Linked DNA regions of Homo sapiens. The protein of the gene in region 1 interacts with the protein of each later gene in a pairwise test. Each region holds a gene or a part of one and is shown on either strand. Other genes may lie near its edges.

The links. The genes of interacting proteins can lie anywhere in the genome.
Region 2: the proteins of SSX2IP (region 1) and CCDC198 interact in binary tests that used the Homo sapiens proteins (3 or more experiments, as listed by UniProt).
Region 3: the proteins of SSX2IP (region 1) and CHCHD3 interact in binary tests that used the Homo sapiens proteins (3 or more experiments, as listed by UniProt).
Region 4: the proteins of SSX2IP (region 1) and FAM124B interact in binary tests that used the Homo sapiens proteins (3 or more experiments, as listed by UniProt).

The regions. Positions count from the first base shown.
Region 1 is NC_000001.11:84,679,691-84,684,849, reverse strand, and holds part of SSX2IP (afadin- and alpha-actinin-binding protein), read left to right. Parts: intron 1-2,382; exon of another isoform or gene 2,383-2,652; intron 2,653-2,865; exon of another isoform or gene 2,866-3,022; intron 3,023-4,462; exon of another isoform or gene 4,463-4,512; intron 4,513-5,159. UniProt on the Homo sapiens protein: Belongs to an adhesion system, which plays a role in the organization of homotypic, interneuronal and heterotypic cell-cell adherens junctions (AJs).
Region 2 is NC_000014.9:57,472,352-57,477,510, reverse strand, and holds part of CCDC198 (factor associated with metabolism and energy), read left to right. Parts: intron 1-1,806; coding exon of another isoform or gene 1,807-1,929; intron 1,930-5,159. UniProt on the Homo sapiens protein: May be involved in tuning the metabolism, energy expenditure, and excretion processes.
Region 3 is NC_000007.14:133,071,085-133,076,243, reverse strand, and holds part of CHCHD3 (MICOS complex subunit MIC19), read left to right. Parts: intron 1-5,159. UniProt on the Homo sapiens protein: Component of the MICOS complex, a large protein complex of the mitochondrial inner membrane that plays crucial roles in the maintenance of crista junctions, inner membrane architecture, and formation of contact sites to the outer membrane.
Region 4 is NC_000002.12:224,377,192-224,382,305, reverse strand, and holds the end of FAM124B (protein FAM124B), read left to right. Parts: intron 1-2,097; coding exon 2,098-2,733; 3' UTR 2,734-3,608; downstream 3,609-5,114.

The DNA of each region.
Region 1 (5,159 bases):
TCTTCTGAAAATTTTTTCATTTTATAATACTGAAATTTATATTATGTGTCACTGAAGTTTTCTGATTACTGCATAATATTCCATTTTGTGCATATGGCATAATTTATCCATTCTCCTGTTGGTGGTATATGGGTTGTTTCCAGGGTGATACTCTTGTGCTACTCGCTATTGTGAAGAATGCTGCTGTATAGGTGCACACCTCCTGGCATACGTAGGCAAGAGTTTCGATTGGGTTTCACTAGGAGTGGACTTGCTGGGCTGTAGAGTATGTGAATAGGATAAATGAATATTCAGCTGATGAACTGTTTATTTTTCAGAGTTTCCCCCCATCCTCTAAGGTTTAATAAGCTGCTTAGCCAGGCATTCCCTAGGACTGTTATTTTCAGCCTCCATTTAGTGCTTTGGAACACTTTTACATCATTCTTGGAATCCATTTTGTAGGACCCTTAGATAAGAATTCCTTTTTGGTGTTCTCTAATTGAAAGTGCATATAAATAGAATACTAATTTATACTGAACCACATTCTATAGAACACAGCAGTGATTCTCAAACTTTGTCAGAATTACGTGGAGGTTCTCCCACCACTAAAGTTTCTGAATCTGTAGGTCTGTAGTGGCACTTGATAATTTGCATTTTTATTGAGTCAGGTGATGTTGATGCTGCTGGTCCCAGGACCACACGTTGACAACTATAACCAATGATTGAATTTGGGCTAAATCATTGAAAAAACGATGAGTAGATTTATTAATTATGTTTGGTTTCTTTGTTATTTCCAATGCCTTTAGTAGATGCTATTACCATTTCATTATTTGAGGAGTGAAATACCAATAAATAGTAATTTTAAAATTTGATTTGGACTTCTTAGCTGACTTTTAACCTTAAAAGTTGATAGACTTCTAAAAGTGCCTCTTTTTTTTCTTGTTTCTTAATAATCTTCTAAGAATATGATTGCTGCTATTCCTGTGTGTACATTGGAAGAATTTGAAACTGATACACTGTTTGTAAATTGCCATGCTCTTGATTCATACCCTGAATCACCTTTCTCCTTCTCTGAGCTGTTACCAATCAAGATTACGTTGAAAGCCCTTCCAAATTGCAGCATGGCCAAAGTGTTGACTTGTCTATCATACTAAAACAGCAGCAAACCTTACACTAATACATCCTTGAACTTGGACATTCATTCAGCAATCTTGACTGGGCTCCAACCTTGGAGTGAGTGATGATGCCTGTTACCGAAGTGGGGTACAAAGAATATGCTGACAAGCCTGCCAAATGAGAACTCAGTTGTGGTGGGAGAGAAATTTTATTCCTGTTAGATCTGTGCTGTAATACAGTTCATGTTAAGTGTTCTAGAAGCACAGAGAGAAGGGATGGCAGTGCAGGGAAAGCCTGGCAATATATTTGCTAGGTTTTTCAAAATTTTTTTGAATTGCTACATCCAGAATTTAATATTTTGTCTGCTTTTGTGTAGTTCCCATTCCAGTTATTCAATTGGCATAATTATTTGATTATAATTTAGTTTCAGGTGAGGTGGTAAAGAAGAGAATACTTGTTCGGTTTGAAAAAGCAGCTTGAGGGGAGGAAGAGCATTAGGACAAATAACTAATGCATGCGGGGCTTAAAACCTAGATGACGGATTGATAGGTGCAGCAAACCTGCACGTTCTGCACATGTATCCCAAAACTTAAAAAAAAAAAAAGCAGCTTGAATATTGTATCCTTCCCCCTCTCCTGTACTAAAGATAGTAGGGTGTAATGTTAAATGTGCTAGACTACCAGGGTTTGAATTTTGGCTTTGTCATGTTCCAGCTCTGTATCCTAGGTCAAGAAAACTCCAGGCTTCAGTTTCCTTATCTGTAATGGGGGAAAGTATTTGGATCATTGTAAGATTGAATAAGTTCGTACACATAAAATGCTTAGAATTGTTCCAAGTAATTGCTACATGCTTAATAAATTATTTTATTGTTATTAAAATTAGGTAGAATCTCATTTGCTAAACATTGGGTTGTAAAGACAATGTGTGCACATTGTTATAAAAATGTGAAGAAAAGGCAGTGCGTGATGGCTCACACCTGTAATCCCAGCATTTTGGAGGCCAAGGTGGGAGGATCACGAGGTCAGGAATTCGAGACCAGTCTGGCCAACATGGTGAAACCCCATCTCTACTAAAAATACAAAAATTAGCAGGTGCGGTGGCATGCGCCTGTAGTCCCAGCTACTCGGGAGGTCAAGGCAGGAGAATTGCTTGAACCCAGGAAGCAGAGGTTGCAGTGAGCTGAGATCACACCCCACTGCACTCCAGCCTGGGCAACAGAGCAAGACTCCGTCTCAAAAAAAAAAAAAAAAGTGAAGACAAAATAATTTTGATATAAATAGCTGTACTCAGTTCCATATTGGGTCCTATGAGAAATGTAAAAATCAAAAGATAATAGAACTTGAAATTCTTTAAAGGTCATCTAGTTTGACTTCATAATTGAAACCCAAAGAAATTATGACCGGTTCAAGGTTTCTCAGTACATAACAGAAGTGTTGCTGAGAACCATGGCCTCTGATGCTACTCAGTCCAGCGCTCTCTCAGTACCCTGTGCAGCTTCCCTGAAGTGACAGCGCCCTGGAAAACTAACAGTTTAATTGGCAGCCAAGTCCAAAACAGGTGAAAACATTAGCAATAAAAAGTCAGTATATAATGGAATATCAGATGGTGTACATAGATTAAGTCCCTACCGTATTTAACTTTGTGAGCTGCTCTCTTGAAGCGGAAATGCACCTTCTTAGTAATTTCATTCATTGAAGGTTGAAAGATGAAGAGCATTTGTTTTTGAAGAGGGTGTTAATAAAGTCAATTTCCCTCTTTCCTCCTACCAAGGTTGGATTGTTCATTAAGCCAGGGGGAGAGTCCACTTTTGCCAGGTCTGCCAGTACTCCATGGCTTTGCCCTTGATGATAGTTGGGGAAAAGTCTGGCCTCTGTATTTCTGTTCCCTGTCTTCCTGATGGGCCAGATTCCCACAGACATTCCCTCAGGTATGAAGACTGCATTACCCTTGCTCATGGGTATGCGTACATATGTGGAACAGGTGCTAGAAGTGTACCTGATTGGTGGGATTTGTCTAAGTCGAGATTTCCACTCAAGGACAGGGCTGCTACTTTTTGGGATTGAGCTAAGAGTACTTTCACACATTATCTCATTTAATTGTGCTTGAATACTCTGCTGCTAAAAATTTTACAGAATAATACATGCTCCTATAACATTCAAGCTATATAAAGATATGCTATGGAAGAGGTGAAAGCCCTGCTCTTCTACCCCTCCCTGTACCCAAATTATTCCATCCCAAGAAGTGTCATTTGTGACATTTTGTAACTTTTCCAGAACTTTCCCCTAAATATATATAGGTAGTTTGAGTTAACAAAAAATGGTGATCATACTGTTCTAATTAACCTGTAACTTCTTTTTTTGTGCTATACATGCATATGTGCTTTAATCTTTAATAATCCCAGAATAGCCTGGCTGTACCATATGTGTTGGTTTTTAACAGTTTGTCCATGATGGATATTAAGATTGTCTCTAGTTTTTTGCCATTTCAAATAATACTGCAATTCAACAATGTCCTCAATATATATTATGCTTGCTCTCTTATATGCCTAGAAGTATGATTGTTTAGTGGAAAGATTTACACATTTCAAATATTTGTATACTGTTGGAATTGCCCTTTAAAACAACAAACTACTGATCTCTGGTAAAGTGCTATTTCCCTTACATAATTGACTATCTTAAAAAACTGTAGGACATTTGTATAATTTTCTAACCAGTTTTTGCCCAACAAGACTGCTTGCTGTTTTATTTTATGCATTTTTTATCACTCATGCCATTCTACCATTGGTTTTGGTGGTTCAGAATGGTGCTGTTTATCCCCATTTCCTGTGCTTATCATCACCATAATTGCCTTTTAAAAACATAAATTTTTTTTCTTAATATGAAAAACACTTTCATTTATAGAAAATTTGGAAGACACAATAAAATAAAAGTTATATTTTTGTGCATGAAAGTACATAAAGAAAGGAATGAAAGTCCTGCCCTTGCCTTTTCCCTATTTTTTAAGTTGGTTTTTCCTTGCAATTTTTTCTGTCCTTATACCAACTTTTGTGTTTATAGAGCAGAATTTATGCCTGTACATATCTACTGATATTTGTTTTTTTTTCCTGAGGACTAAATAAGCTCATATTAGATATGGTTTTGTAACTTTTTTACATTACTTAACAAAATATCATGGAAGTCTTTCCAAGAGTAAAATAGCTAATAATAGCTAGCATTTATTGAGCACTTACCATGTACCCATGACCTTTTTTTAAGCCCTCTACATGCATAAGTTTATTTAATAAAATTATTAAAGAAATTTGGTAACTAAATTTACTGTTTAACCACATAATTTTTTGAGGTAAACTGCTTTTACTCTCCTTTTGCAGATGAGGAAAGTGAGGCCCAAAGAAGATTTATGTTCAGGACCATTTAGTCTGTAAGTGGAGAAGCCGGGGTTTGGAACCAGATGGTCTGGCTTTGGATTTTAACTCTTTTACTGTACTGTTTCTCATACTGCAGCAATGATCAGTTCAAAGATATATAAGGAATTTAAAGAACAGCATGTAGCTCCCTGCTTTCTAAGCTGAGGATGGCTTTCTAATGGCAGATTTTGGCCAGGAGCTTCATTGAGATTATATCCCTCAACCCAGAGATACACATGAATTATTGTACCATAATTTATGTGTTCACACTATTTTATGCAGTCTGAGCCCAACTGGGAGATAGATTGAGTTCTGTTTTTTCTGGTTCTTAAAGGAGTAGTCGTAGGAGATGCTGCTTCCTGAGCCCCTCACCCACTGAAGCAACAATATGTGATGGTTAAGAGAATGGGCTCTGCAGTCCAATGTGGGGTTGGGGGGTTGGAATCCTGCCTCTGCCACTTGCTAGCTCTGTGACCTTGGGCAAATTACCTAACCTCTCTGCCTCAATTTCCTTACCTGTAAAAAGGAAAAAATAACAGTGTTGTTGTGAAGATTGACTTAATTACATACGTAAAGCATTTAGAATAGCTCCTGGCACATGTGTTATTAAACCAGTACCCTATGTCCTAGTTATAGTGTACTTAGTTTTCCACCTCTTACT
Region 2 (5,159 bases), on another chromosome or scaffold:
TGTACGTGTGTGTGTGTGTGTGTGAGATACACGTGACAAAATGAGCCTAGAAAATGTAGATTTTGCTAGCATGAAATAGAGAGGGAATTCTAACTCTTCCTATTATAATGATATCATAATTAACTAGACTTTTAGAATAACATGTCTGCATCAACTCACTTGCCTATTGCTGAAGTTGTTGGAAAGAGAAGTAAAGCAAATATCACTGGAAATTTGTTTGATGATAGAGAGATTACAATGCCTCCAAAGGATATCATTCTGTTCTGTGCTGCAGTGTTCACTGTGCAGCCCTGTACATGTAAAAGTATAGGATACTGGGATAATAATGGATACAGCTAGTATTTACAAGTGCTTCTAAGAATTTTAAATGCAGCATTTAATCTTCATATTAACTCTACAAGGTGAAAATTATTACCACCTCTCTTCTACAGATGAAGAGTCTGGGTCCAGAGAGGTCCAGTCACATATGCAAGGTCACAGCCAGCCAGTGAGAGGTGAAGCTGCTCAGGCGTGCACTCACGGGGCACCTGACTCCTGAGGCGACAGCCTTCACCTCTGTGCTCGGCATTTGTCCTAGCGATGATTCCTTTTTGCTTATTCCCAGAGAGCATCTTTGATTTCTTTCCACGCCTTCTAAAAGTAGTTCGCTTTCTCCTACAAATGGAGTGTAGCTAAGATCTTACACTTACATAAGCATTCTACTATCAGGGTCTGGTCATTAAGCATTCTACTATCAGGGTCTGGTCATTAAGGTTCCTCTGTAGCAGTCTCCTCTTAATGACATACTGGCCCATTCTTGTTCCCCTGTTGAAAGGTGAAATGAGGGTTGTGGCTCTCTTGTGAGATAAAAGTCAGTTGCTGCTTTCTACTGCATCTTTAAAATGAAATCTCCCACGCTTTACATGTATTTTACATACATTCCTATAATAAATTACATATACAATCATATGACACAAATGATATATAATGTACACATAGTGAATGTCACTCTTTTTGGTGTACAAGTCTATGAGATTTAATGTGTTTCTGTGGCTCCTACCCTTTGCTGAAGCTGTGACATGAATGAACACAGAGGGTGGGAAGAGCACCGGAACTGACCTCAAAGCCCTTCCCTGAGTCCCAGTAGTGCATCTACTAAATGGAAGCTCCATGAAGGCAGGGACCTTTTCTTGTCCCTAGAATAGTACCTGACACATGATAGCCTCTCAATAAATATTAACTGTATATTTTTCTATATAATTTTATTCTAGAGAGAGAAAGAATATAGCTAAATTCTAGTTATTTAACCTCCAGGAACCTCAGTTTCCACATCTGTAAAATGGGAATAAAGTTATTGTATACCATGTAAAGTTTATGTAAAAATTAACATGTATAAAAGCACACATAAAATGTAAAGTGTGGCCAGGCACTTTACAGGCCATAGCTCATGCCTGTAATCCCAGCACTTTGGGAGGCTGAGGAGGGTGGATCACTTGAGGTCAGGAGCTCGAGACCAGCCTGGCCAACATGGCAAAACCCCGTCTCTAGTAAAAATACAAAAAATTAGCCAGGAGTGGTGGCACATGCCTGTAATCCCAACTACTGGGGAGGCTGAGGCACGAGAATTACTTGAACCTGAGAGGCAGAGGTTGCAGTAAGCCGAGATCACACCACTGCTCTCCAACCTGGTCGACAGAGAGAGACTCTGTCTCAAAAAAAAAAAAAAAAAAAAAAAAAAAAAAAGAAGCTAAGTGCCGTACAAATGTATGGGAATATAGACAAAACTGAAGAAGGATAGAATTGATGTCTTTTTTTTTTTTTTTTAAGACAGAGTTTCGCTCCTGTTACCCAGGCTGGAGTGCAATGGCATGATCTCGGCTCACCGCAAACTTCGCCTCCCAAGTTCAAATGATTCTCCTGCCTCAGCCTCCCGAGTAGCTGGGATTACAGGTGCCTGCCACCACGCCCAGCTAACTTTTGTATTTGTAGTAGAGACGAGGTTTCACCATGTTGGCCAAGCTGGTCTCGAACTCCTGACCTCATGATCCGATTACAGGCATGAGCCACCGCGCCTGGCCACAATTGATGTCTTATAGTGAAAACAGTCATATGCTTCAGGGATGTGTCACTTTGAATCCATTATTTTAATGTCAGCTTCAAAATTCTGGTCTTATCTGGCCACCTGCACTCTTTCTATAAAGAATCTTGTTTTATTTTATTTTTTTATAGATTTTATTTATTTATTTATTTATTTATTTATTTATTTATTTTGAGATGGAGTCTCACTCTGTCGCCCAGGCTGGAGTGCAGTGGCACAATCTCTGCACACTGCAAGCTCCGCCTCCCGGGTTCACGCCACTCTCCTGCCTCAGCCTCCCGAGTAGCTGGGACTACAGGCGCCCGCCACCATGCCCGGCTAATTTTTTGTATTTTTAGTAGAGACGGGGGTTCACTGTGTTAGCCAAGATGGTCTCGATCTCCTGACCTCGTGATCCGCCCGCCTCGGCCTCCCAAAGTGCTGGGATTACAGGCGTGAGCCACTGTGCCCAGCCTGTTTTATTTTTTAATATAGCTCTGTATGTGAAATTCTGGGTTTGATAGAGTAGTGATACATTTTTCTGAAACACATAAAATACACAACCATCAAACAGTTTTCATGCTTTACGTGATTCTTCTACTACCTAAATCACTTCCTATTTTTCCCACTGACAGCTGTTGCTTTCCTCTCTCCCTAAATTAATTTTGGAGTAGGATACACTTTCCTTTACTCTGCTCACCCGAAACCCATTTAGGTTTTTAAACACTGTGTTTTTATTTTTTAAAGTCTATAAACCACAGAGAATTAAATGAGGATTTATAAAAATGTAACAAGTAATAAGAAACCTAGCTCAGAAGCTCTCAAATTTTAATGCTGTGTACACAAAACTATGTATGTAATACTTTATGAGTGACAAAGGATTTATTTTCAAGGATGAAACTGAATATTTGAATTTTGTCTCATACACTAACATTAGACCTGAATTTTCATAACATCAATGGTGTTGTGGGACTTAGGCTATCATTAATATTTCACTAGATCCCACCACAAACAAACATTCCCCTTCTGTTTCAGAGCTCCTGCTGATAGCTGGATGTTCTAGAAAATTCCTGTTCCCAGTCTGAATGGTGCCTCTGGTAGTTCTTGACTAATTTGCAGAGCAGAGATGATTGGCATTCCTGAGCCCCAATGAATGGGGCCTTTTTTAGGTCCTAGTTACCAATACTTCCCATCTCCCAAAATTCTCTGATTGCTCATTTGTTTATTCATTTATTCATCTATTTGTTCACCAAATATTTATTTAGCACATACCAAGTGCCAGGCATTGTGTGGTCGTTTCATTGTATGGTGATGAGCCAGGCAGATATGGTTTCTGGTTTTAACAAAGAGATGTTTAACAAGAGTATAACAGGTAGACCTGGTATCTGTGGAGTCAGGGAAAGTTTCCATGAGGAAGGGACATTTAAACTGAGATAAGAAGTAGCTGGATGAAGTGGGGAGGAGGGCATGTAGGTGTGAGGACCATGGGTGCTGGAATTTTGAAAATGGTAATCAACCACAGCATGTGCAAAAGTCCTGCAGTGGGAAGGAACACGATGGACTCTAGGTGAATGAGAGATTCAGAGAGTAACTGGAGATGGTTCTGGAGACATGGGCAGGGCCAAATCACACAGGGTTTTGTAAGCCATGTCAGATAAGAATTTTAAACTCTATCTTAAGATCAATGGGAAGCCACTGATAAGGCAGGAGAGTGGCATAAGCAGGTTCATATTTTTAAATGTCACTCTGTCTACACTGTGGAGAATGGGTGGGAGGGGAAAGTAAAAGGATGAAGGAAGACCAATTATAAGGACACAACAAAAGCACAAGTGAGAGATGATGTTGAGACCAGGATAGTGGGGTCACGATCAGGATGGAGAGAAGCAGCCAGATATGAGATCTTTAGGAAACAGAATGATCAGAATTATCAGGTGATAGGTTAGATGTGAGTGCATGGAGAGGGTAAGGAGGCCAGGTAGATTCCTGGGTTTCTCTTGAACAATTAGGCAGACAATGGGGTAAAGTTAGTACCGTTTGCTGAATTAGGGTAGCCAGGAGCAGAAGCAGGTTTGTGAGAGAAAGAGAAGGTAGGGCTGCATTATTGCCAAGTAGATATCAAAGTGGAGGTGTCCAGTTTTACAAAAACGTCCTTTGTAGCTTAGGAAAGAGATCAGGGCTGCAGACGTTAAGATGGTTATCTGCCAGTGCTATCTAAATAGGCAACAACAATCATTATAATAGTATTCAAGGGGAAAAACTGGTAGCCTCTCACTGAGGCCCAAGAAATCACAAGGCATGAATTCTCACATTAAAATGCTTGTTTCCAACTCACCAGGCTGTATACATTCAATATGTGTAGCTTTTGTATGTCAATCTTAGTTCAATAAAGTAGTTTTTAACAATATGGTGCACAAGGTAAAAAGAAATACTTGATTTTCTTATATAATAATACACAACTTCAGATATCAAGGGCTTACATAAACTATGCCAAAAGATTTAATAAACAATCATCATTAAGATGACATCCAAAAAGTTATGGTCGTTTCAACCAGTCTAGTGGGAAACTCTGGGCTTTGACCTAGGATTTTTGTTTCAGCTCCAAAGTGGTTGGGAAGATTTTGTTTTCTTAAAAGCCAGCTTTCCTTGAACAAAGCTCCTGTTGCTTTCTGGAGTGCCTTATAAAGAATGCTGGGAACTGCTTAAATAAAAAACTAAGGTAAATACATATGCACATAAATAAAATCCCAAACTAAAAATAAATTGTCTCTTTTAATAAAAAATATAAAGTAAAATAGAATGCCAGACTCACTGAACTTCCCAGTACTATGGGTCTGGAGAACAGTTTAGACATCTCTTTCTAAAAGGCTGCAACAGGTGATTCTGCTATGAAGCCAGAGTTGATGTGAATGTCAGAAGTATATATTATGTGTCTAGCACATAGTAGATGTTCAACAAAAAGCACTACCCAATGTCACCTGTGCAATATTCTTGCCCAAAATGTTTAACCTCAATTTAATAACAAGGAAATAATAAGGTAAGCTGAAATTTAGGATCATTCTGCAAAATAATTGACCTGGATTCTTTAAAATGTCAGCATTACATT
Region 3 (5,159 bases), on another chromosome or scaffold:
CTACAAATAATTTCTGTAAATTGCCCTTGGTATTTGCCTTGATGCAGATTCCAGAGATGTCTGGAAAGCAAGTATAATAGGTATAGGTCATTGTACAGGAAAAGGCTTTGCTTAAACAAGTGCCCGGTTCAGGAAAAGATATGTTTCCTGAAGAAGATACTTTTTTTTTTTTTTTTTTTTTTTTTGAGATAGAATCTCATTCTCTTGCCCATGCTGGAGTGCAGTGGTGCGATCTCGGCTCATTGCAACCTCCACCTTCTGGGTTCAAGCGATTTTCCTACTTCAGCTTCCCAAGTAGCTGGGACTACAGGCACCCACCACCATACCTGGCTAATTTTTTATATTTTTAGTAGAGATGGGGTTTCACCGTGTTAGCCAGGATGGCCTTGATCTTCTGACCTCATGATCTGCCTGCCTTGGCCTCCCAAAGTGCTGGGATTATAGGCGTGAGCCACCACACCTGACCGCAAGATACTTCTTACACAGAGGCTGCCATCGCAGAAGCTTGTGTTGTACTATCGACCCCCATTTTGGGTCATTTTTTATCAGAAAGATGAGTTGTTCTGCAGCTACAGATTGCGTGTATAATCCTGGCCAGCATCTCTAAAGCTTGTCAGCTGCTTCACGAGTGAGTACCCCTGTTCACAGAGGAGATCAGGTGAGTGTGCAGGTCTGAACTTACTACTGCAATGGGAAGGTCAGCTCAGAGAGCATTAACTTTGGATACAGATGATAACACAACAAAACTATTACCTCATATCTACGTCGCTATGAGCAGACTGGGAATAGGGTAATAGTGCTTGGAGTTGGCAGAGGTGCAACAGTAGATGGCCATGGGTGCTGCTTTGGAAGGGCCTAAGGATACAGTTGTTGAATGATTGTAAGAACAAGAGAAAGGTGGAGTCTCAATAAGGCAGCCGTACAATATGTTTATCAAGCCTTCAATAGGTTTAGTATATACTCCTTTGGTGCATGCTTACAAGTTTACTGAACTATAACCAAACATCCCACTGGGAAATGTTTTGAATTGATGTGAGAATTTGACATTAAGTAGCAACTTGGGACATCAGAGAGGCCTCAAAAAGAAAAAAAAGTTAACAAGAAATTAGTGATTAGGTTGAAAGAGACATTCTACTCCTACTACCTAGAGAGCATAGATAGAGAAAAATAAGCACCTTCTATACCCATACCAGGACTTAGGCAGCTGCTGCTTGCAATAGCTGCAGGCCTGGTCCTCATGCACCTTACAGAGAACGAGTCAGTACAAGCTCAGACCCAGTTGATAAAAATGAACCAAAATGAATTAAAAAGTCCCTGTGGTTGGAGCTATATGGGTAATAGCTTTACCAAATATTTGTGTAGCCAATTGTAGTTTATGGTGCAAAACACTAAAATCCCTCCACAGAATCTCTGGGGTAAACATTATTTTCATTTTTTTCAGATGAAAATAGTAACTTTTCAGATGAAAGCTTATAGCTAACACTTGATTTTTGAGATTTATATATATTATATATCAGTTAAAATAGCTTTAAGATTCTAAAAATGTAAGCTTATTTTTTCCTCTTTAAGAGGAAGTGATATTTTTATTACATGCATGGGATTGAAGGGGTGTGTTATTAAAAGTAGAGCATTGGACTAGAGATTGGGGAATTACTGCTTCTGGTCTTGATGCTGCCAGTAACTGAATATTACTCAGGGTCTCTTTTTTTTCTCAAGTATAAATTGAGTCAGTCTTACGGGGATTTTTCTAGGATGTGTCTCAGTTTCTCAGTTTCTCAGATGGGTTTCAGCAACATTCCCAGTGGCTGTCAGTTGTTAGAAGGATGCAGCTGGCTCTGGCATTTTCAAATAGAAAGTCTTCTTGTCTTCCAAGAAGGGAGTCGTAGTTTTTTCCTTCAAAGAGCACACACAGCATTTGATCTGTAGCCTTTCCCTTTTCCATCTTATTTCCATTCTGGTTTGGGCCCTGAGATACAAGTAACAGTTGAGGTATAGACTATTTAGTTCACTGATGTATCACAGGGCCTTGATTAGTGCCTGGCCTGGGAGACATTTGTTGAATGAATGACTTAATATATAGGAGCTTGCAATCTAGTGGAAAGGCAGAAAGGTGAATGTGGAAAGGCTAATTCCTGTTCTTTCATTGAGACTGTATTGGAAGTTTGAGAAAGGAACAGCAGGCACAAGGAATGGTAGCTTTAGGTAGGCAGGGTTGGAATGGAGTGGACAACTGTTTTGGTCAGTGAAGGCTTGGATGTTTAGACTGCGTCTTGAAAGGTGACTCCCTCCCAATGGTACAGGAGAGAGGGCAATGTAGGCGTGTGTAAAGGCAAGGAGATGGACGTAGAACAGGATATGTAATATTAAGGAAAAAAACTGTAGAATTTGAGGTTGGAGAGTTAGGCCATCACCAAATGATGAAGTCTTGAATGCTGTACAAAGAATTTGAATTTTTCTGTAAACAGACAGTAGCTATTGAAGAATTTGAAGTAGGGAGTTACCATTATCACATTTGCATTTTAAGCGGATGGTACAGGAATTAGGGCAGGAGAAATGGGATGAGAGAAGAGAGGAATTCATTAAATATTTAGGGATTGATGAAGTCAGAGCTAAGAATGAGAGAGAAAGAAGAGTTAAGAACAAGCCCTATGTTTGAATTTAGGAAGCTGGGTGTTGGTGGTGTCATTAATGAGGTAAGGAAGGCAGGAGAAAGAGGAGATATGCGGCAAACGTGAGATCAATTTTGGACACTTTGGGTGTGAGGTGCTTCTGGTTTGCCAGAAGGAAGGTGTTCATTAGGCACTTCAGTGTGGAGACCGGGCTTCTGAGAGATAGGTCTTAAGCTCGAGTGAATGCATTTATTAATGGAATTTATTAGTTTATCAACAACAGTTAGAAATCAAGAGATTGGATGAGAGTGCCAGTACAAGGGCACATAGAATGAGAAGGGCCCTTCAGCATTGAAGTGCAGGCAGGAGAGGGGAAGCTGCAAAAGAGATAAAATGTGGCCAGAGTCCTAGGAGAACCAGGACAGCAGGATGTCAGAAAAGCCAAGGGAGGGCTTTCCAGAAGACGGGAGTGGCCAGAGGTGTTAGATGCTAAAGGGAAGCCATATAAATAAGGCATTTTATAAATATAAAATATTTATTTACATAAATATCAAAAGTTATTTATTTGGTCATTGGTGACTTCTACCAGAGAATGTTCACTGTTGCACTGAGGGTAAAAGCCAGAGAGTGGTGAGTTCAGGAAGTGGAAATGGGAAGGAGACCCTTGATACAGGAGGAGGATCACTCAGTTACTTGAAATGGAAATCCTGGGGTCTTCCTTGATGACTTCTGCTTTACTCCCACATCTACTCAGATACTGGGTAGTGATGCTGAGGGATGTTTGAGTGGGATCTTTTTTTTTTTTTTTTGAGACGGAGTCTCACTCTGTTGCCCAGGCTGTGGCGCGATCTCACTGCAAGCTCTGCCTCCCGGGTTCACGCCATTCTCCTGCCTCAGCCTCCTGAGTAGCTGGGACTACAGGCGCCCGCCACCACGCCCAGCTAATTTTTTGTATTTTTAGTAGAGATGGGGTTTCACCATGTTAGCCAGGATGGTCTCGATCTCCTGACCTCGTGATCCGCCCACCTCGGCCTCCTAAAGTGCAGGGATTACAGATGCGAGCCACCATGCCTGGCCTTGAGTGGGATCTTGAGACTCAGACTTTTTGGGTTTGAATCCTTCCTCTGCTACTGATAAAGTATCTGATCCAGGGCCAGTTATTTAATCCGGCTATGCTTCAGTTTTTTCACCTATAAAATAGAGATACAAAAGTATCTATCTCATAGGCCTGTGAAGGAGTAAATAAGTGAAGTGCCTAGCTTAGTGTAGCGCCTGGCACATAATAAGCACTCAGTGAATGTTAGTATTTTAAATCCTAAATACCTTTTAAGTGTGTTCTCCCCTGGATTACCATAATAGCTTTTTTTTTTTAAAGTTTATTAAAGTAAATTGTTGTAGAGTAATTTACATGCCATGAAATTCATCCATTTTAAGTTTACATTCCAACACTTTTTTTTTTTTTTTCTAGATAGGGTCTTGCTCTGTTGCCCAAGCTGGAGCACAGTGGCATGATCATGGCTCATTGCAGCCTTGACCTCCTGGGCTCAAGTGATCCTCCCTCCTCAGCCTCCCGAGTAGCAATTCAACACTTGATGAATTTACTGAGTTGTGCAAACATCACTACAATGCAATTTTAGAATATTTTTATCACCCCAATAAGATCTCTTGTGCCTGTTTACAGTTAATCCCTATTCCCACCCCAGCTCTAGGCAACTACTTAATCTACTCTATAGGGATGCTTTTTCTGGGTGTTTCATATAAATAGAATCATTCAATATGTGGCCCTTGTGTTTGCTTCTTTCACTTAGCTTAATGATTTTTAGGTCTATCTGTACGGTAGCACATGTCATAACTTCACTGCTCTTTATTGCTGAGTTGTATAGTGTTGTATGGATATGTAAGATTTTGTTTATCCATTCACCGTAGATAGACATGTGTTTGTTTCCACCCTTGCTCTTATGAATAATGCTGCTATGAACATTCCTGTGCAAGTCTTTGTGTGGACATATGCTTAATAGCTTCTTAATTGGTCCTTTAGCCTCCTTCAGGGATCCTGCTTCTGTTCTTGTCCCCCTCCAATCTGTTCTCTACATTGTAGCCAGAGTGATTTTCCTAAAGTGTAAATCTGATCGTGCCATTCCCCTGCTTAAAATCCTTCAGTAGTGCTCAGGTACCCTCAGGGTCAAGTTCAAACTGTTTCAATTGAAGAGTTCACTAAGAATCTTCAAAATTTGGAATCTCTACCTTCCCTCCCCACCTTCTCTTTCACTATGCCCTCTCTCTATTTTCTTGCTTCAGCCATTTATTCATGTTGTTTCATTCATTCATTTAACATTCATTCATTGAATTAACTAGGCTTAGTGAGGCTCTGGGAGTATAGCGATAGGACAGCCAAATCCTTGCTTTCAGGGAGCTTTCTTTCTAGTGAAAGGCAGATGGTAAACAAGCAAGTCTCAGGTAGTGGTTAAGTGCTGTAAAGAAAATAAAAAAGGATGACGCGATAGTAACTGTGGGAATGATGACTCTCAAATCCGCAAGGCTGTGTGTTCC
Region 4 (5,114 bases), on another chromosome or scaffold:
ATAAAAAATATGAGATTCAAATTTCAGTGTTCATACATAGAGTTTTACTGAACACAGCCATTCATTTATATATTGTCTATGGCTGCTCTGCAGCAGAGTTGGATAGTTGGGATAAAGACCATATGGCCGGCAAACCCTCAGATATTTACTGTCTGGCTCCTTGCCGAAAATATTTGCCAACTTCTATTCTAAAAGAATCAGTGGAAGTCCTTGTTTTTTTGTGTGTTTGTTTTTGCAGCTTGGTAATATGCACCTCACCATTTCTATCAGAAAATTGAGATGTACTCTGCGTCATCTATACAAACAAATATGCTCTGTGTGAGTGTGTGTGTGTGTGTATGAGAGAGAGAATTTACTGATTTCTAGACCTGTTTTCTCACTGTCCTCATTTCTGCCTTCTTGCCTTGTAAGATAAATATGTATCATTATTTTTTCTCCCTTGAAATAGACCTTATTTTTTACAGCAGTGGTAGGTTCACAGCAGAATTAAGCAGAAAGAACAGAGAGTTCCCATATACAACCTTCCCCCCGAAAAGAGCCTCCTTTCCTGTCAACATCCTTTATCAGAGTGGTACATGTGTTACAACTGATCAACCTACAACGACACATCACCATCACCCAAAGCCCATAGGGTACATTAGGGTTCATTCTTGGTGTCGTACATTCTGTGGGTTTGGACAAATGTATAAGGATGTGCATCCACCATTACAGTATCATGCAGAGTAGTTTTCACTGCCCTAAAGTCCTCCTGCTCCACTTAGTCATCCCTCCCTCCCCCCAACCCCTGGCAACCACTGATTTTTTTACTGTCTTCATAGTTTTGGTTTTTCCAAAGTGTCATATAGTTGGCATCATATAGTCTCTCTCTGTCACCCAGGCTGGAGTGCAGTGGTGCAGTCATAACTCAATTTAACCTCGAACTCCTGGGCTCGAGGGATCCTCCCTCTTCTGCCTTCTGAATAGCTGGGACTATATGTATGGACCACACGTCTGGCTGATGTTTTTATTTTTTGTAAAGATGGGGTCTTGCTAGTTGCCCAAGCTGGTCTTGAACTCCTGGCCTCAAGTAGTCCTCCCACCTCAGCTTCCCAAAGGGCTAGGATTACAGGCATGAGCCCAGATAGGCTTCTTTCAGTTAGTAGTATTTATTGCAAGTTCTTCCGTATCATTCTTCTTGATATTTGATTAAGGGCTGGGCCAGGTAGGGATGGATCCTGGATACAAATTTCCAAGGGCTGTTATCAAAATGGAAAAAATTGCCTTTTTCCAGAAATCTTCTTGGGAAGAGTGTTGTGCATGGAATAGGATGCAAGGCTCCCAAGGGTGGAAGTCTTAAAGGGGGGTCAGTGAACTCCATCCTGTGGAGGGAGAGTGCAGTCAACTGCAGGGTGAGGGTTTTGCTGAGTGGTGTCTGTAAGTTTGTAACCAGAGTGGAATTGCTAAGGATGAAAACACCTAAACTTCCATATAAGCCATGCCCCCTTTTTGTTTTCTCATGCAATACCAGGCCTCTAATCTAAATAAATGGTGCCCCAAGAATTTAAAGAATATTGCTGCCAAATTATTAGCCGTCTGGAGTGGTCACATGTCTTAGAATGGCCCAAGATATGTATTTTTATTAGCATGATCTAAAAGAAGGATCACCAGCTTTGGAAGATTGAATTCTTACTTCAATCCTTATCTTAACTTTAACCACATGGTTTGGTGGCTTTCTAAATTTCTTTTTTTACATGGTTGCTAATAAATATATCATTTACAACATCCAGTGAGGTCACTGAATGACATCTGTGAATGTCTGCATTGTTTGAACAACTTGCTCTACCAGAAGTGTGGTGTTGTCAATTGGCCATTTGATTCCCAAAGTCTTACCCTTGTCAAAAACTTAATTTAGGGAGTCCCAAAGAGAGGTATTTGGGGCTGGGTCTGATTAGATATCTCATAATTATATTGTACTTATCACTTCTATTCAATTCAACCAAATTTACTGAAAGTCTGCTATGGGCATGGCATGGCAGAGGGTGAATAAGGCATAGTCAGCTCTTGGCACTTAGTTAATGGAAATTATGTTTCATATGTTCCTCCTTTCCTTTCCTGTAGGTTCAGCTGAATCCAGAACTTGGTGTTAAGAATGGCATCTTGGGAGCTGGCATGCTTCCCCTGGGCTCCAGGCTGACTTCTGTCTCTGCAAAGAGGACCTCAGAACCCAGGAGCCAGAGGAACCAGGGCAAGAGGTCCCAGGGGCATTCTCTGGAGCTTCCTGAGCCCAGTGGGAGCCCCACATCAGACAGGTGTGCTGGCACTTCGTGGAAAAGCCCTGGCCGGTCATTCCAGGTCAGCAGCCCAGCTATGGGTGCCCACCTGCACCTGTCTTCTCATCACCTTGAATCCGGGGCCAGAATGAAGGTCCTCAACCGGGAAAACAGCTTTCAGAAGCTTGAGGCCGAGACGAATGTTGACACCGGCTTGACCATCATAAATTCTGAACCCAGGCAGACTTATTTTGGCGGATTTCCAAGGGATTTACAGACCAGCCAGCCACCATTCTGCTTGCCAGCCTCTTCCTTGGGGGTGGCTACCTCCAAAAACAACAGTGTCCTTAAGGAAAGAGTCTCTCCTTTGCCACTTGCTGGCCAAAGGGACCTTGGTACCAGGAAGACAATTTCAGAATGTCTCCTTCATCTGCAAGTTCAGGGTGAAGAAAAAGAAGAAGATGAAGAAGAATTCTTTATATAGCATAAAATAAATGTGGTTTTCTAAAACACAAGATCAGATAAAATGTTCTAGAAATGGAGTACTGACCCAGAATCAGCCTGTTAGTTGTTCATCTGAGGGGGGCTGAATGCTCCCCATGCACAATCTGTATTGATTTTATTTCAAATGTTCAAAGTCTAAAGGTGCTGGGAATGATTGTTTATTTGCCGTCACAGTCATAAGAGAACACAGCCAACACACAGGGAAAAAAACCGAATGCTTTTGTTCCGTGGAGATGCACTAACCCAGCTGGATGTGTTGAATCCAGCACCTATCAGGATAATTGCATTGTATGCAAATGAATCGGTATGTTATACAACACTAATTAGTGTCTGTAATTTGGTTTTAATTTTTACTTAGGTTGCATAGCTCATCCCCCTGGACAATATGGACTGCTATTTACTCTTGAATGCTTTTTAATTTTCATGTGACCTCTTTTGGTAACTAGGCCTTGTTCACATACCCTCCTTGTGATTTTGTCTTTAAAGTTGTTTGTATCTGGAATGAGTGAAAATGCAAAGTGTTTTGAAAATTATAAACAGTTAATTTTGTTTTCCTGTTTAATGAGCCAAAATACTGGAAGCCAGAAAATCAGGTTGAACATGAATGCTAGGCTCTAGGGCTTTCCTGCTCATCTGCTTCTCATTTGTTTCTGCACTATGTCAAAGAGGACAGTGGTTCTTGTTACAAACCAAAGAGGAACATTGAGCACAGTGGGAAAATTGGACTGGTTGATCTGGTCACTGGAGCAGGACTTGGGTTCTTCTGGCCAGATTTTGACTCCCAGATTCCTTTACAAAACGCACTCATTCATTCATTTATATATGTTCATTCAATAAACATTTTTTGAATACCTACATTTGAATAAGACATTGTGTATATGGTACATATACATTCTGGGGCCATGAAACCCAAAAAGTGTTTATGGTTTCACCACTCTGATAAATTCATTCTACCAACTTTTAAAAAGATACTGAATTCCAAATATATTCCTCCAAAAACTTTTTCCACAGTTGAGGCCCACACTGGCCACATAATGGTGTAATAAGCATTTGCAACCTGCAGATGGAGACTGGGCATATTATGAATTGCAATTATAATTGCAATGGACAAATTCTCGTTGCCCATATGCTGAATTTTTTGGATATGTCTGTACACACATGTTTAAAAATCCCGAGGCCTGTGTTTCAGTTCATTTATAAGGTTATTCAATTCCACGAACTTCACTCTCAGAACAGATGTTACATAAGAGTGTAAATGTTGATTTAGCTGGATCTTTTGGAGACTTGGAGACTTACTACACCTAACTGGAGACAGAGATGAGTTCAGTCCTAAAGTCAAATCTTGCAAAAGTGAGTCTAGGCTGATTTTGGGTGCTCTTCTCCGCAAAAGGGATAGAAACGGAGGAGAGTTGTAAATGGACAAAGACAAGACTCCTCAATTGATATTTTTTGTCCTTAAAACATCAACATATTCTCATTCCCATTTTGTCTCTCTCTCCCCTAGACTACAATTTGATTTTAGAAAACGGGATGAAGAGCTTAACTTTGGTATAGCTTTCTATAATAAGAGTTAAAACAAAAAAGGAAGTTGAACTACTGAACTTTGAATAAGCACAGCAGGAAGAAGTTTTGAAATTTCCTTCCCACTTTTTTTTTGATGTTATCTAAATTTTCTTAATATAATACATGGGTAAGAATAAAAGTACCTGAAAATTATAAAGAATATTGAGAAATGTGAATCAGGCACCTTACAAAATTGACTTGTAAAATAATATACCCTTAAAATGTCATCTATTCTATCCTACTTGTATTATTCAGGGTTCCCTAGAGGAACAGAACTAATAGGATAGATAGATGTATATATGAAAGGGAGTTTATTAAGGAGTATTGACTCACACAATCACAAGGTGAAGTCCCACAATAGGCTGTCTGCAAGCTGAAGAGCAAGGAAGCCAGTCCAAGTCCCAAAACCTCAAAAGTAAGGAAGCTGATAGAGCAGCCTTCGGTCTATGGCCGAAGGCCCTAGAACCCCTGGCAAATCACTGGTGTAAGTCCAAGAGTCCAAAGCTGAAGAACTTGGAGTCTGATGTTCAAGGGCAGGAAGCATCCAGCACAGGAGAATGATGAAGACCAGAAGACTCAGCCAGTCTAGTCCTTCCACATTCTTCTGCCTGCTCTATTTTAGCCACGCTGGCAGCTGATTAGATGGTGCCCACCCAGACTGGGGGTGGGTCAGCCTCTCCCAGTCCACTGACTCAAATGTTAATTTCCTTTGGCAACAGCTTCACAGACACACCCAGGAACAATACTTTGCATCCTTCAATCCAATCAAGTTGACCCTCAATATTAACCATCACACTA